Homo sapiens: one gene and its partner. The protein of the gene in region 1 purifies or fractionates together with the protein of each later gene. This does not show direct contact. Each region holds a gene or a part of one and is shown in the gene's direction. Other genes may lie near its edges.

Evidence for each region.
Region 2: the proteins of POLR3B (region 1) and GPN3 purify together in Homo sapiens (affinity purification with mass spectrometry; 5 studies listed by BioGRID and IntAct, with this or other methods). This does not show direct contact.

The regions. Positions count from the first base shown.
Region 1 is NC_000012.12:106,360,730-106,367,751, forward strand, and holds part of POLR3B (DNA-directed RNA polymerase III subunit RPC2), read left to right. Parts: intron 1-3,140; coding exon 3,141-3,173; intron 3,174-5,786; coding exon 5,787-5,843; intron 5,844-5,928; coding exon 5,929-5,993; intron 5,994-7,022. UniProt on the Homo sapiens protein: Catalytic core component of RNA polymerase III (Pol III), a DNA-dependent RNA polymerase which synthesizes small non-coding RNAs using the four ribonucleoside triphosphates as substrates.
Region 2 is NC_000012.12:110,465,238-110,473,138, reverse strand, and holds the start of GPN3 (GPN-loop GTPase 3), read left to right. Parts: upstream 1-4,935; coding exon 4,936-4,983; coding exon of another isoform or gene 4,984-5,013; intron 5,014-7,901. Other genes in the region: protein FAM216A, read right to left, coding at 21-61, 4,121-4,263. UniProt on the Homo sapiens protein: Small GTPase required for proper localization of RNA polymerase II (RNAPII). May act at an RNAP assembly step prior to nuclear import.

The DNA.
Region 1 (7,022 bases):
TGAATAAATATTTGTCAGTGTTACTGAGTACTTACCTGGTGGTGTATTATTCACAGGGTTTATACAAGTTCAAAAAATGTGTTTTCTGCCTCCCAGTGTGTTATAGGCTTATAGAGAGAGACGTGTAAGCAAGTGGAATAACATGCAATAGGTACTGTGATACAAGTAGGCGAGGGGTATTTTGGTATTACAAATGGTAGCTAGGATGTGATGCCTGAACTGAGTTTGCCAGATGTGGATGAAGTGTGGTGGTGCGGAAGCATTCCAGATAGAAGGAGGAGGCGTAGGCACAAGTACAGCTGCAAGCACAGCATATGATGTATGCCTCGCTGTGGAGTTAAGACATGGTGAAGAGGGTGGGGAGGCACTGAAGAGTTGTAGAGAATGAGGTGCTCAGCTGTGCACATGAGGACATGTACACTGGCTTTAGTGCTGAGCATTGAAAGGGACGAGCAGGAAGAGTAGTAAGGAAGTATTGCCGCAGACCAGCTGAAAGATTATGAGGGCCTCAACTGGCACAGGAGCAGAGGATAAATGCGAGGAAGGTTAAAAGGAGGTCGACTCAGTAGAATTTTTGTTTTCCTGTTGATTAAGAAGAGTCAGAAAGTTAGGACTCCCGGGTATCTAATTTGGGATTGACTGGGATAAATGGTGATATTCATTGAGATTGAGAATGGAGCTGGGGGAAGATTTAATTTTGGACATACTGATCTTAAGTAGCCTCTGAGGCTGTAAGGTATCACTGCCCAGTCAATAGTTGGAGGGGACAGGCCCATACCCAGTAGCTTACTGCAACAGTGATATTCACTCACTCATTTATTTATTCAGTATTTATTGGAGTCTTTTATGTGCCAGGCACTGTGGTAACAGGATAGACAGGGTCACTGCCCTTGAAAGAGCCCACATTTGGAACTGGGGGGCTGTGGGATGAGATGGGGGAAGCTAAACAACACTTTCAAACAGTGTTGTTTGAAATCCTCCATTCCCAGCCCTACTTGAGAAAAGACATCGCCAGGGATAGAACTTTGAAGAACACCAAAATTTGCAGGGTGGCAGAGAAAAAGAGGTGTGACAAGGCCCGGCCGGAGGAAGGAAAGACATAAGAGAATGATACCACAGAGTGTTATAAGACAGTGATCGGCATGGCCAAATACTGTGGAAAGGGAATGTGAGGGGGCATCAAGGGAGGTCTTTTGAAGTAGCAGCCTTGGTGACCTCTGTCGAGCTCTTTCACTGGCAGGTAGGTCAGAGTCCTGACTATAACGGAATGAAGGAGTGGGAAGTGAGGAACAGAGAAGCTAAATATGGAGTAATTTGGGAGAGATCGTAAGCTGAAGGGCAGGGAAGAAAGTAGTCAGAGGAGCTGCTGAGTCAAGAAAGTTTTAAATTTTTTTTTTAATGGGAGGATTTGAATACTCGTTTTAAATAGAACAGGTTGAATATCAAGGACTGAACTGGGGCAAGGTTTCCAGTCTTCAGGAGAAGGTTGGCAGGATTGTGTCTGTGGCGGAAGGGTTAGCCTTAGACCAAGGAATGGATGGTCCTTCCTTTGAAGTGGGAGGAAACGAGTATAAGAAGGGGTGTAGAGAGAGGAATTTGAAGATGTGGGAGTATTAGCTCATAGGGCTGCCGTAACAAAGTAACCACAAACTAGGTGGCTTAAACAACAGAAATTTGTTTTCTCATAGTTCTGGAAGTTAGAAGTCTGAGATCAGGGTGACAACAGAGCTGGCTCCTTCTGAGGGCTATGAGAGAGGATCTGCTCTGGGCCGTCCCCTACTACAGGTGTTTGCTGGCAATCTTTGGCATCCCTTGGCTTGCAGAAGCTTCACTGAGACCTCTACCTTCATCTTCACATGGCATTGTCCCTGTGTGCATCTCTATGTCCAATTTCTCCTTTTTTATAAGGACACCAGTTGTATTGGATTAGGGCTCACCTTAATGACTCATTTTACTTAATCACCTTTGTCAAGACCCCATCTTCAAAAACAGTCACATTCTGAGATACTGGGGATTAGGACTTTAGCATATGAATTTTGAGAGGGACACAATTCAACCTATATCATTGTCATTCTTCTATTTTTAAATTTAGGTGTAATTTATATAATAAAATGTATGGATACTAGATATTCAGTTACATTGGTTTTATAGTTATGTGCTCTATGTGGACATTGCATCACCCCAGAAAGTTCCCTTATGACCCTTTTCAGTCTATCCCCCCAAGCACCTTTTGATTTCCGTCATCATAGATTAGCTTTGCCTGCCTCTCTTGTTTTTGACTATACCCAGGGGTCTGCCACCTTCCCTGGCCACTCCTCGGTCTCCTTTGCTGGAGCTGCCTCCTGCTCCTCCTCTCTGATTGTTGGATTATTCTTGGTTGGTCTCACTTTGTGGAACTCTTCTCCATCTACATTCCATAGGTGATCTCATCCATCACGTGCCTTTAATTGCCATCCACTTGTTAATCTCTTCCTAGTTTATATCTCCAGGCCACTCCATTCCCGAATTCAAGACTCATTTGTTGCCTCCTTGACATTTCCACCTGAATGTCTAATGGAGATCTCAAGCTTAACACACCCAAACCAAATTTCTAGTAGCCCCTCCACACCTAAACCTGCTATTCCTACAATGTTCCTCGCCTCCATCAATTTTAACTCTATCCCTCTAGTTGCTCAGGCAATGTAGGAAGCAATCACCATATGTGTCATCCTTCTGTAGCCCTGAGATGAGCTCTGACCAGACAGTAGTTGAGAGAGAATGGGAGGGAGAAAGAACTCCCTTTGGGTCTTGAGACCCAGCTCTCCCACCAGACTCTCTGAGCCTTATTTTCCTTTTCTCAAACTGGCAAACTTCACTTAGGAAGTGTCATGAGAATAAAATAAAGGATTGAAAAGTGCTTAAAATCTTGAGTCATCAGGAAGAGATTAAGTTATATTCTGTTTAGGAAACCTGTAGTGTATGTATGTATGTGTATACATATTTATATGCATATGCACACATGTGATTTCCATAAAAATGTTTAAAAATTATTCTTTTTGTTTTGATTTACTTTCCTTTGCTTATTTTGGAACATTAAAATAACTTATGAAAGTACTGTTGCTGGTACAGAGTTCTGATATTCTTCTTGTTTTGGCTCACAGGAAAAATGGAGGCTGCTTCCAGCATTTTTAAAGGTAATTGTTTCACATTTAATAATAATTGGTTATTTTTCAGATGAAAAAGTCAAGAAATAAGCCATTTTTTAAAGATTAAATTTTTGTCATCAACATTTTTTGATTTTGTATAGCTGTGTTTGGAAATACAAGGAATTATAAGGTAAAATCCCTGCCTGAAAGGTGCTGGTTTGGAGAGTGGTAGTCTAATTTTAGAGAGAAGTAGTAGTACATGCACAGTAGCATGGCACATGATTAAAAACCAAAGTGCTATCAGCAAAAGAGCAATGGTCAGAGAGGGCCACCCAAATGAAGTGAGACATAAACCACATCTTAAGAGAAGAAGGTTTAAGCCTGAAAGCTGGGTGCAGAGAGCGTGGCTCAATCAAGGTGTTCAAGAGGAGCCTCCACAGAGTCTGCAGGAAATAGCGACCAGTCAAGAGGAGCTGCTGAATATGATATGATGTGGTGTCGGGCTTCAATTCAATTTCCAAGAGCTTATGCTAAGAAGTAATGAGTACCACAGTGAGAGACCACTTGGCACCCGCTAGGATAGCTATAATCAAAATCAAATGTTAATAAGGGTGTGGAGGAATGGGAACTATCATGCTCCACTGGTGGGAACGTAAAGTGTTATAGCCACTTTGGAAAACAGGCTGTCAGTTTCTCAAATGGTTAAACAAAAAGTTACCACATCCTCCAGCAATTCCACTCCTAGATATCTGTCCAAGAGACATGAAAACATGTGTCCATGCAGAAACCTGTACACAAATGCTCATAGCAGTATTATTCATAATAGCCAAGAGTGGAAACAACCCAAATGGCCATCAGCTGCTGGATGGATACACAAAATGGGATGTATCTGTGCAACAGAGTATTATTTGGCAATAAAAAGAAAGCAGGTACCCGCTGCAACATGGACGAATCTTGAAAGCATTGTGCTAAGTGAAAGAATGGAGACTTGAAAAATGAGGCCGGGCGCGGTGGCTCACGCCTGTAATCCCAGCACCTGGGGAGGCTGAGGTGGGCGGATCACGAGGTCAGGAGTTTGAGACCACCCTGGCCAACATAGTGAAACCTCGTCTCTACTAAAGATACAAAAAATTAGCTGGGTGTGGTGGCGGGCCCCTGTAATCCCAGCTACTTGGGAGGATAAGGCAGGAGAATAGCTTGAACCTGGGAGGCAGAGGTTGCAGTGAGCCGAGATCGCGCCACTGCACTGCAGCCTGGTCGACAGTGTGAGATTCCGTCTCAAAAAAAGAAAAATGAGTAGAGTTTTGTCTCTACTCATTTTGGACTCTACTCTAGAGTTCAGTTGCGTGTTATGGGCAGAGGGGAGAGTGCTGGGAAACGAGGCTGGGAGTTGTCAGGGCCAGTTTCCTGATCAGATTTGAAAGCCGTGTTAAGGATTTGGCTTTTCTTCTAAAAGCCGTAGGAAGCTATTGAGGAGTTTCTAAGTTGGGGAGTGACCAAGAATCAAATAAAATGGTCGTAAGGTCAAGAAGTTTCTTTTTCCCCCTAAGAGACCAGGTCTTGCTACATTGCCCAGGCTGGATTTGAACTCCTGAGTTTGAGTGATTCTCCTGCCTCTGCCTCCCGAGTAGCTGTGACTGTAGGAATGTGACACCTTGCCTGGCCTTTTTGTTATTTTTTAAAAGGAGCTGCACATAAATGGAGAAGAAGGTGCTGGGTGCTGGGCACAGTGGCTCACGCTTGTAATCCCAGCACTTTGGGAGGCCAAGACAGGCGGATCATTTGAGGTTGGGAGTTTGAGACCGACTAGCCTGGCCAACATGGTGTAACCCCGTTTCTACTAAAAATACAAAAATTAGCTGGGCATGGTGGCGGGCACCTGTAATCCCAGCTACTCAGAAGGCTGAGGCACCTGAACTGCTTGATGCAGGGAGGCGGACGTTGCAGTGAGCCGAGATCGCACCACTGTACTCCAGCCTGGGCAATAGAGCGAGACTCTGTCTCAAAAAAAAAAAAAAATTTTTTTTTTGTTAAAAACTAAGATACAAATACACACATTAGCCCGGGCCAGAATCATCAATATCACTGTCTTCCATCTCCATGCCTTGTCCCACTGGAGGGTCTTCATGGACAGTAACACACATGGAGCTGTCATCTTCTATGATAACAATACCTTCTTCTAGAATACTTGCTGAAGGACCTGCCGGAGGCTCTTCTTGAGGAGGGGTCATTCTTTTCAGAAATACACTCTATGAAATCAAATCAAGTTGTAAGTCATTAGGCGATAGGAATTTTTCAGCTCCATTATAATCTTATGGGACTGCTGTCAGATATGTGGTCTGTAGTTGAATGAAATGTTGTTATGTGGCACATGACCATATATTCATGTACTCATATTTTGATTTCCGAGAGTCAGATTGCTTCTCAAGGAGGAAAACTCTCGAGGATATGCTAGTAAGACGATGCAGAAATGGAATGAGAATGCATTAATGAAAAGATTTATTAAATAAAATTCATGGATTATTTTTCTCATTTTGATTTTGATAAAAATTTGATGTTCACCTATTATTAGATTCCATTATATGATCTATTATTTGAGCATATCATCAGTACTCTTTGCACTTTTGCTAACCTGTTTACTTTCTCTTTCTATCTGTTTAGGTGAAAGGCCTTGTGAAACAGCATATAGATTCATTTAACTATTTCATTAATGTAGAGGTAAGCATCAGATGTTAGAAATAGACATAAACTAAGGATTAATTGGAAGCCAGAGTCTTTGCTAATGTTGCATTTTCCACTGCAGATAAAGAAGATAATGAAAGCCAATGAAAAGGTTACAAGTGACGCTGACCCTATGTGGTACTTAAAGTAAGGAACCAACATTCTTAATTTGCTATGTGGGTTACATCTAACATTTTTTAAAGTGAGTGAAGTTGCTATCAAAACTCTTTTAAAATCATTGTCTTGGCCAGGCTCGGTGGCTTATGCCTGTAATACCAAGCACTTTGGGAGGCCGAGGTGGGCAAATCACCTGGGGTCAAGAGTTCGAGACCAGCCTGGCCAACATGGTGAAACCCTGTCTCTACTAAAAATACAAAATTAGCCAGGCGTGGTGGTGCACATCTGTAATTCCAGATACTCAGGAGGCTGAGGCAGGAGAATCGCTTGAATCTGGGACGGGGAGATTTCAGTGAGCTGAGATTGTGCCACTGCACTCTATCTTTTACAGCAGAGTGAGACTCTGACTCAAAAAAATAAAAAATGAAAAAATAAATCATTGTCTTTTATTAACTATAAAGTGCTCAAATTAAATTTTTAACTGGCAAATTATAATGAGCTATGGTTGGGAAAATTTTGAAACTATTAGGTTTTAAATATTTAAATTTTTATTTTGAAATAATGTTAAGCTTAAAAGAAAAATTGCAAAAGTAGTACAAAGAATTCTTCAATATTTTTCACCAAGCCTTCACTGATATTAACATCTTACATAACCATAGCACAATGATCAAAACCAGGAAGTTAGCACAGATACGATGTTGTCTACTAATCTGTAGACCTTATTTGATGTTTTCTCACAAATGTCCTTTTTCTGGTGTAGGAATCAATCCAGAGCTCCGTGTTATGTTTAGTTGTCTTGTATCCTTAGTCTCCTCAATCTTTCTTGGTCTTTCATGACATTGACACTTTTGAACAATCTAGTCAGTATTTGTAGAAGTTCCTTTAATTTGAGTTTGTATGACGTCTGATTGGGTTATACATTTTTGGCAAGAATACCACAGAAGCAATGTTTTATGCTGTTCTCACTGATTCGTATTGGGGTTACAGATGCCAATATATTTTATTACTAATGATTTTAACTTTGTTCACTTGATTAAGGTAGGATCTTCCAGATTTCTC
Region 2 (7,901 bases), 4.1 Mb from region 1:
GCTTTATATGCACTACTCACCAGAACCTTTGGAATTCTGGTAACAAGAGTATCCAGCTGATCTGTTGAAAAAATAAAGCATATAAATAATATGTAATAATTACAATGTTACAAGCACTGAACAACATATTTCAATTTTTTTTTTTTTTTTTTTTTTTTTTTTTGAGACAGGGTCTCACTTTGTCACCCAGGCTGGAGTGCAGTGGCATGATCTCAGGTCATTGGAACCTCTGCCTCCCAGTTTCAAGTGATTCTCCCACCTCAGCCTCCCAGGTAGCTGGGACTAGCGCTGCTACACCCAGCTAATTTTTGTATTTTTAGTACAGACGGTTTCACCATATTGGCCAGGCTGGTCTCAAACTCCTGACCTCAGATGATCTGCCTGCCTCAGCCTCCCAAAGTGATGGGATTAAAGGTGTGAGCCACTGCACCCAACCAACATATTTCAAATTTTAAAAAAGGATAGTGTTGCATATTATTTTTACTTTTCATGTTTCCATCAGAAATAATGTCTTACAAATTTTTTCCTATAATTCTGGTTAAATCCTAATGGCTCCAAGATTTTTTTCTTTCCTTTTTTAGAGATGGGGTCTCCCTCCTTCACCCAGGCTAGAGTGCAGTGTCGTGATCATAGCCCACCGCAGCCTCAAAATCCTGGGCTCAAACGATCCTCAGCCACCAAGTAGCCAGGACCACCAAAACGCCTGGCTAATTTTTGTACAGATGTGAGCCACCATGCCTATCCTGGGTCTTAATTTTATAGCTTCCTAATCTCATTCCTACAGTGAGCTCAATAAAGTAGTTGGGGCTCCTGGGCTATCCATGTGATTATCTTGCTGTCTTTATTTTTAATGAAGTGATTTGGGTATTGAAAAGACTGTTCTTTTTTTTTTTTCTTTTTTCTTTTTTGAGGTAGAGTCTTGCTCTGTTGCCCAGGCTGGAGTGCAATGGCGTGATCTCCGTTCACTGCAACCTCCGCCTTCCAGGTCCAAGCAATTCTCCCACTTCAGCCTCCCGGTAGCTGGGATTACAGGTGCCCGCCACCACGCCCGGCTAATTTTTCCATCTTTAGTACAGACAAGGTTTCGCCATGTTGGCCAGGCCGGTCTCAAACTCCTGACCTCAACTGATTCGCCCGCCTCAGCCTCCCAAAGTGCTGGGATTACAGGTGTGAGCCACCACGCCATGCCGAAAGACTGTTCTTTGAATAGTAATTAAGGTGTGCTAGAACTAATAAGTTGGTCTGTAATGTTTCTAATTTCGTACAAATTCTTTTTCTTTTCTAAACTTAAGACAAAACAACTGATCCTCATCCTGCAATTTATTCAATGACCAAGAGTTCATGGGCCAGGCGCCAAGTTTATAAAGTTTTTGTTATGAACTTTTCACCGCCGCTTCCTTTGCTATTTTATTCCAAGCCACCATATCGTTTTCTTGTATTCCAACTTCTTAATTCTACGCTTGCTCCTTCTAGTTTATTCTCCAACTAGCAACCAGCGTGATCCTTTTTAAGTAAAGTAAGATCACATCACTTCTCTGCTGGCAACCCTCCTGTGTCTTCCTTTCTCAAAGGTTGACTTTATAAGGTATGAGGGAGTTTTGAAGGAGTGATAGAGCTGCTCTGTATCTTTAGTGTGGCAGTGCTTACATAGCCATGTGCATTTGTCAAAACCCATCATATTATACATGAAAAAGTAAGACTTTAATTTGTGTAAATTATGCCTCAATAAACCTGACTTTAAAGAAAAAAAGTGCTGGGCACGGTAGCTCCCGCCTGTAATCCAGCACTCTGGGAGGCCGAGGCGGGTGGATCACGAGGTCAGGAAATCGAGACCATCCTGGCTAACATGGTGAAACCCCGTTCTCTACTAAAAATGCAAAAACTTAGCCAGGCGTAGTGGCACGTGCCTGTAGTCCCAGCTACTCAGGAGGCAGGAGAATCGCTTGAACCTGGGAGGCGGAGGTTGCAGTGAGCCAAGATCACACCACTGCACTCCAGCCTGGGTGACAGAGCGAGACTCCATCTCAAAAAAAAAGAAGAAAAAAAGTAAGGAGTTCCGGAGTTCCCATTAGTTAATAATGGGATTTTTGGCAGATCACTTCCCCTTTCAGATTAGTAAATATGACCGGAATTGATGATTTTTAAGACCCCTGCCAGTGCCAACATTGTATCATGTAGCATAATAAACCTGATTCTAGTTTGAAAATTTTATTTTGTATTTCTGGGAATATAAGCTTTTCATAAATTAGTCTTGGTTTGTGTTTTTTAATGGGGTTCCTTAAACCAAACTGAAGGGCATACTGTCTTTTTTTTTAATTGTAGTTTTAAGAGTTTGGATAAACTAAAGGAAGCATGGAGATGAACGACAGGCGGAGATAAAAGGAAAGGACAAACAACCTCTTTGTGCCTGTTTTGTCATCCATAAAGTGGGGATCATAATAGAACCTTCCAGGATTACAGGCTCATGCCCATCTCTACTAAAAATACAAAAATTAGCCAGGTACGTGGTGGCGCACACCTGTAGTCCCAGCTACTTGGGAGGCTGAGGCAGGAGAATTGCTTGAACACAGGAGGCGGAGGTTGCAGTTAGCTGAGATCGTGACACTGCACTCCAGCCTGGGTGACAGAGGGAGACTCTGTCTCAATAAAAAAAAAAAAAAAAATTCACGTATCTCCTGATACACCAGGATCCTGCAGTCGGCCAAGGACTGTGAAGAACAGAAAAGAAACCCAAGACTCCATCCCATCTTTAAGAAGTCTTCAGTAGCACCAGAGACAAAAAGGACGGCCATGCGGGCGGATCACGAGGTCAGGAGATCGAGACCATCCTGGCTAACACGGTGAAGCCCCGTCTCTACTAAAAATACAAAAAAGTAGCCGGGCGTGGTGGCAGGCGCTTGTAATCCCAGCTACTCCAGAGGCTGAGGGAGGAGAATGGCGTGAACCCGGGAGGCGGAGCTTGCAGTGAGCTGAGATGGCACCACTGCACTCCAGCCTGGGCAACAGAACGAGACTCTGTCTCAAAAAAAAAAAAACAAAAAGGATGGCCATGGGTGCAACAGGGGCCCTGACTGCGGGTTGTACTGAACGGCAAACATATCGCAGTTCTTGCTTTTAGGGAATAAAGTAGGGAGAGGAAGAGGAGGTAGAGTCTCCAGCAGTGACTTCAACAGCTCGCTGTCTTCACTATCTAGGAAATAGGTGTAAAAACCTGCTCAAAACGAAATAGATTTGTGAAAAAAGGAACTTCAGTGTGAAGAAAATGTCAAGATCAAGGCACCTCGGATATTCAGTCATTGGTCTCATTGGCGATTAGAAATCCTCGTTTGAGGTCGGGCGCAATGGTTCACCCCGTAATCCCAGCAATTTGGGAGGCCGAGGCGGGCGGCTCACTTGAGGTCAGGGGTTCGACACAAGCCTAGCCAACATGGTGAAACCACCTCTCTACTAAAAATACAAAAATTAGCCGGGCGTGGTGGCAGGCGCCTGTAATCCCAGCTACTCGGGAGGCTGAGGCAGGAGAATCACTTGAACCTGGGAGGCTGAGGTTGCAGTGAGCTGAGATCGCACCACCGCATTCCAGCCTAGGCAACAGAGCGAGACTGTCTCGCTCTCAAAAAACAAGAAAGAAAAGAAAAAAAAAGAAAAAGAAATCCCCGTTTGACAGGAAGGTGGCTCATGTCACTAGAGGGAAGGAACTGGTTTATGGGCCTGGATGCCCCCAGTTGAACCGGGGGACATCTTCCTCCTCTGTCCCTCCCGCCTCGCCTTTCGGTGGACACACAGTCCTGTGCCAGACAGCAAACGTCCCAGCAGGGCTCGCAGCGCCCCCTCGGGGCAGAGAGATGCACGCGGGCGACTGTCGCAGTCACCTCGTGGCCACTGCACCAAACGCTCCTCCGAAGCTTCCCTCAGAGACCCTCCCTCAACCGCGAGGCAGTCCTCCCCTCTGCCCTCTGTCCACAACAAAACTGCTCCCCGCCTCTCACTTGAGGGCACCGGGGCCAGCCCCCGAGACGAGAGGTCGGCCGCAGCCCTCCTCCACGGGGCTCACGACCCGGGGGCCTCACGACCCGGGGGCCCCATGCTGCCACCCTTACCCCGGGGCCCCCAACCTCACCCGCCGCCGCCACCCTCGGTCCCGGCCACAGCGGGCGGCTCTGCAGAAGAGCTACGCTCCGTCCAGTCGGACCCCGGACCCTGGCCGGGCATCTCCGCGGCGCCGAGACCGCGAGCCGTGTGCGGGAGCAGCTGTCCCAGCATCCCTCCCCCGACAGCACGCGTGCGTCAGGCTGCTGGTATTCCGGAGAGGCGGCTCGGATGCTGGCTTCTCGCCCCTCCGAAGCCGTTCGGACACTGCCCGAACAGCTTCGGGAGAGCGGGGCGGGCAGATCCGCGACCCCGGAGTTACGGTGGGGGAGGGGCAGGAGCGCTGCGGTCGCTGAGCGTTTGCACGTTTGCACCTCTCTGTGGAAGCAGTGCGTCACAGGAGGGAAATATACATGCTCCCCAAAACAAGAGGTGCCTTCCACTTCAGTATTCCAGATCCTCAGCACATTTGCAAATCGCGAGGGTCACCATACAGGTCAAACGTCTGCACGCAAACCACGGACCGAAGCACGTGGCGCAAGGATGCGGAGCTTTATCTGTTGTCCGTTATTACTCAGGTATCCAAGCTTAGACAGCATCCCAACGGCCGATTTCCATCAACTACTTTTGCGCACGCGCAAATCCTCTCCCTCGCCCCTCCCCTTTTTTCTCAGGACGCGTTTCTCACGGGATTTGGCCCGCGGGCTGCCCCGTAGTAGGAGGTGTGGTAGAACTGGAGGCGTAGAAAGAATGTGGATTGCGATTGGTTCGCACTTCACTTTCCCGGAGCTCAGTGGGCGTCGCGCGAAGGCTAAGGGAGTGTGGCGGGCGGCTCCGGGAGCCAACATGCCTCGGTATGCGCAGCTGGTCATGGGCCCCGCGGGCAGCGGGAAGGTGAGGATCTGCGGGGACAAGGAGAGAAAAGTAGGAGTTCGTGGAAGGCGGGAGATTGGGTCCTGAGGGAGTGAGCCGGCGGGTGTGTGTACTGGGAACCCTGAGACCCCACGCAACTCATTTCTGCTGTCTGGCTTCACGTTCTTTTTTGTTGTTGTTTTGAAAGGGAAATAATGGTAGTTGTTAATATTTATTGTATACTTAAGCCCCAGGCAGCAGATGAAACGCCTCGCTTATTTCTACAACAACCCTGTGAGAGAGATCTCATTTTTCTCATTTTACAGAAAACGAGATACAGAAAGGTTAATTAAGTTCTTTGCCCCGCAAAAAAATATAAATCCAGTTTTGTCTCAACTCCAGAATCCGGCCCTGTCTCGCTCCCAGGAGGGTAAAGTGGGGTCTCATTAATTACTGTTTCTCAGAACTTGGGACATGGACTTTTGGTATTTAAGGTGCTTTTAGGTGGTAGGTGGTACATGGACCCCACATTAAGGAGCATCAGATAATGTGTTAGGGAAATTGTTCCCTTTTCATTTCTCTTTCAGTTCTCAACTTCGCATTTAGGAGAAGTTGTGCTCGGTGCTAGTGTGTATCTTCAGCACTTCTTTAATCCCCAGGTCTTTTCAGAGAGCAGTTCTTAGTCTCAGAGCTTTTAATAGGCACCTGTATTTAGCTAAAAATAGAACATTTAAAGATTTTATATAATTTTATGTCTAATTTCACGTTATGTCAAATATAAGTGGTTTTCAGTTTACAGTAGGGATAAAATTTTTTCTTGTAAACAAATATTAAGGGAATGTTAGGAACATTCAAATACAGTGAGAATGGTGAAGATATGGATCAAATAACATATGTGTGGGAAACATAGCCAGGCGTGGTGGCTCACGTCTGTAATCCTATCACTTTGGGAGATGGAGGTGGACGGATCGCCTGAGCCCAGGAGTTTGGGACCAGCCTTGGCAACACGGCGAAACTCTGTCTCTACAAAAAAATGCAAAAATTAGCCAGGCCTGGTGGCAGGTACCTCTAGTCCCAGCTTCTCGGGAAGCTGAAGTGGGAGGATTACCTGAACCCAGGAGGTTGAGGCTGTGGTGAGTGGTGATCGTGCCACTGCACTCCAGCCTGGGTGACAGAGGTACTGTCGCAAAAAAAAAAAAGAAGAAGTGTGGAAACACTAGAGTCTGTGGAGGTGTTGTGTGGCCTCAGTCTTTAACAAACACATTGTTCTAAGCTGTTGACTTATTCTGGGTAAAAACATGTACATGTAACTAAGATACCTATGGCCTTTAACTTACCCAGAGTCTGTAGTCTTTTGGGGAAGACAAATAGATGACCTGTCAATTAAGATACAGTGTGATGTGGCCAGGTGTGGTGGCTTAAGCCTGTAATCCTCGCACTTTGGGAGGCTGAGGCCAGCAGATCACTTGAGCCCAGGAGTTCAGGGTCAGCCTGGGCACCATGGTGAAGCCCTGTCTCTACCAAAAATACAAAAATTAGCTGGGCATGGTGGCGAGAGCCTATAGTCCCACCTACTCGGGGGGCTAAGGCTGGAGAATCGCTTGAGCCTGGGTCAAAGCTGCAGTGAGCTATGATGGTGCCACTGCACTCCAGCCTGGGTGACAGTGAGACCCTTTGCAAAAAAAAAAAAGATACAGTGTGTGATGTATGGAGAGGGCATTCCAGACAGAGACAACAGTATGTGTAAAGGCACTGAGAGGACAGCATGATGGATGTTTTTTCTATAGTCTATTTTAATTTTTGGGCTGATTGTATTAAACAAGTATCTTTATAAGCTTTTGATGCTTACTATCAGAAACATTCCTTGAGTACGTTCTTTATCCCAGGCACTGTTTTGGGCCCTGGGGGTTGTATGGGGAAAAAAACATGCACACACAAAATCCGTGCCCTTGTGGAGCTTATCTTTAAACATAATAAGTCAATTAGAAACAATTATCAAGTATTTATTATGTACTAGGTATTGCGCTAGTCCCTGTGCTTGGGAAACTGAATAAGACACATCTCTGCCTTTAAACAGAGTATGACACAGACAAGTAGCCTAGAGACTTTTTTTTTTTTTTGAGCCAGGAGTCTTGTTCTGTCATCCAGGCTAGAGTGCAGTGGTGTGATCTCAGCTCACTGCGACCTCTGCCTCCCGGGTTCAAGCGATTCTCCTGCCTCAGCCTCCTGAGTATCTGAGATTACAGGCATACGCCACCACGCCCAGCTAATTTTTGTATTTTTAGTAGAGACGAGGTTTCACCATGTCGGCCAGGCTGGTCTCCAACTCCTGACCTCAGGTGATCCGTCGACCTCAGCCTCCCAAAGTACTGGGATTACAGGTGTGAGCCACTGCACCCAGCCCGAGATGTTAACATAGTACGGTAACAACTACATAATGGATAAAGAATTATCTAAACCAAAAGTTACAAACTGATAGCCACCTCCAGACTATTTATTGATCTTGGCGTTCTTTCATCTTGGAATGCTCTTCCCCTTAGGTTGGCAAACTCCTTCTCATATACTCATATCTCCCCTACTCAGAGACATCATCCCTGACCATCCTACCTAAAGCTTTGTTTGCACTGTACAAGTCCTGGTAGAGACACTGTGTTAGGTGTTACACTATGTAACCAGAACTCTTCCCTTTAAATACCGCTTGTCACATTTAGAACAGTAAGGAGCCTTAGTGATTATGGAGGACATCCCAGTTAGAGACACGAAAATTGAAGGGCAGAGTGGAGAAGTAAATTCCCCAGAGGTACCCATGAGTCTAAGTCAGGTTTGAATCTGCAGCCCAGTCAGGTATCTTTTTCCCTTGTTGTCAGTCAGCCTCTTGGTTGATGAAGGCATAGTTTTGACCTTAGTGGATAGTATTCCAGAGTATGGAAGGTAGCACTACACTACCTGTTGCTTTAACC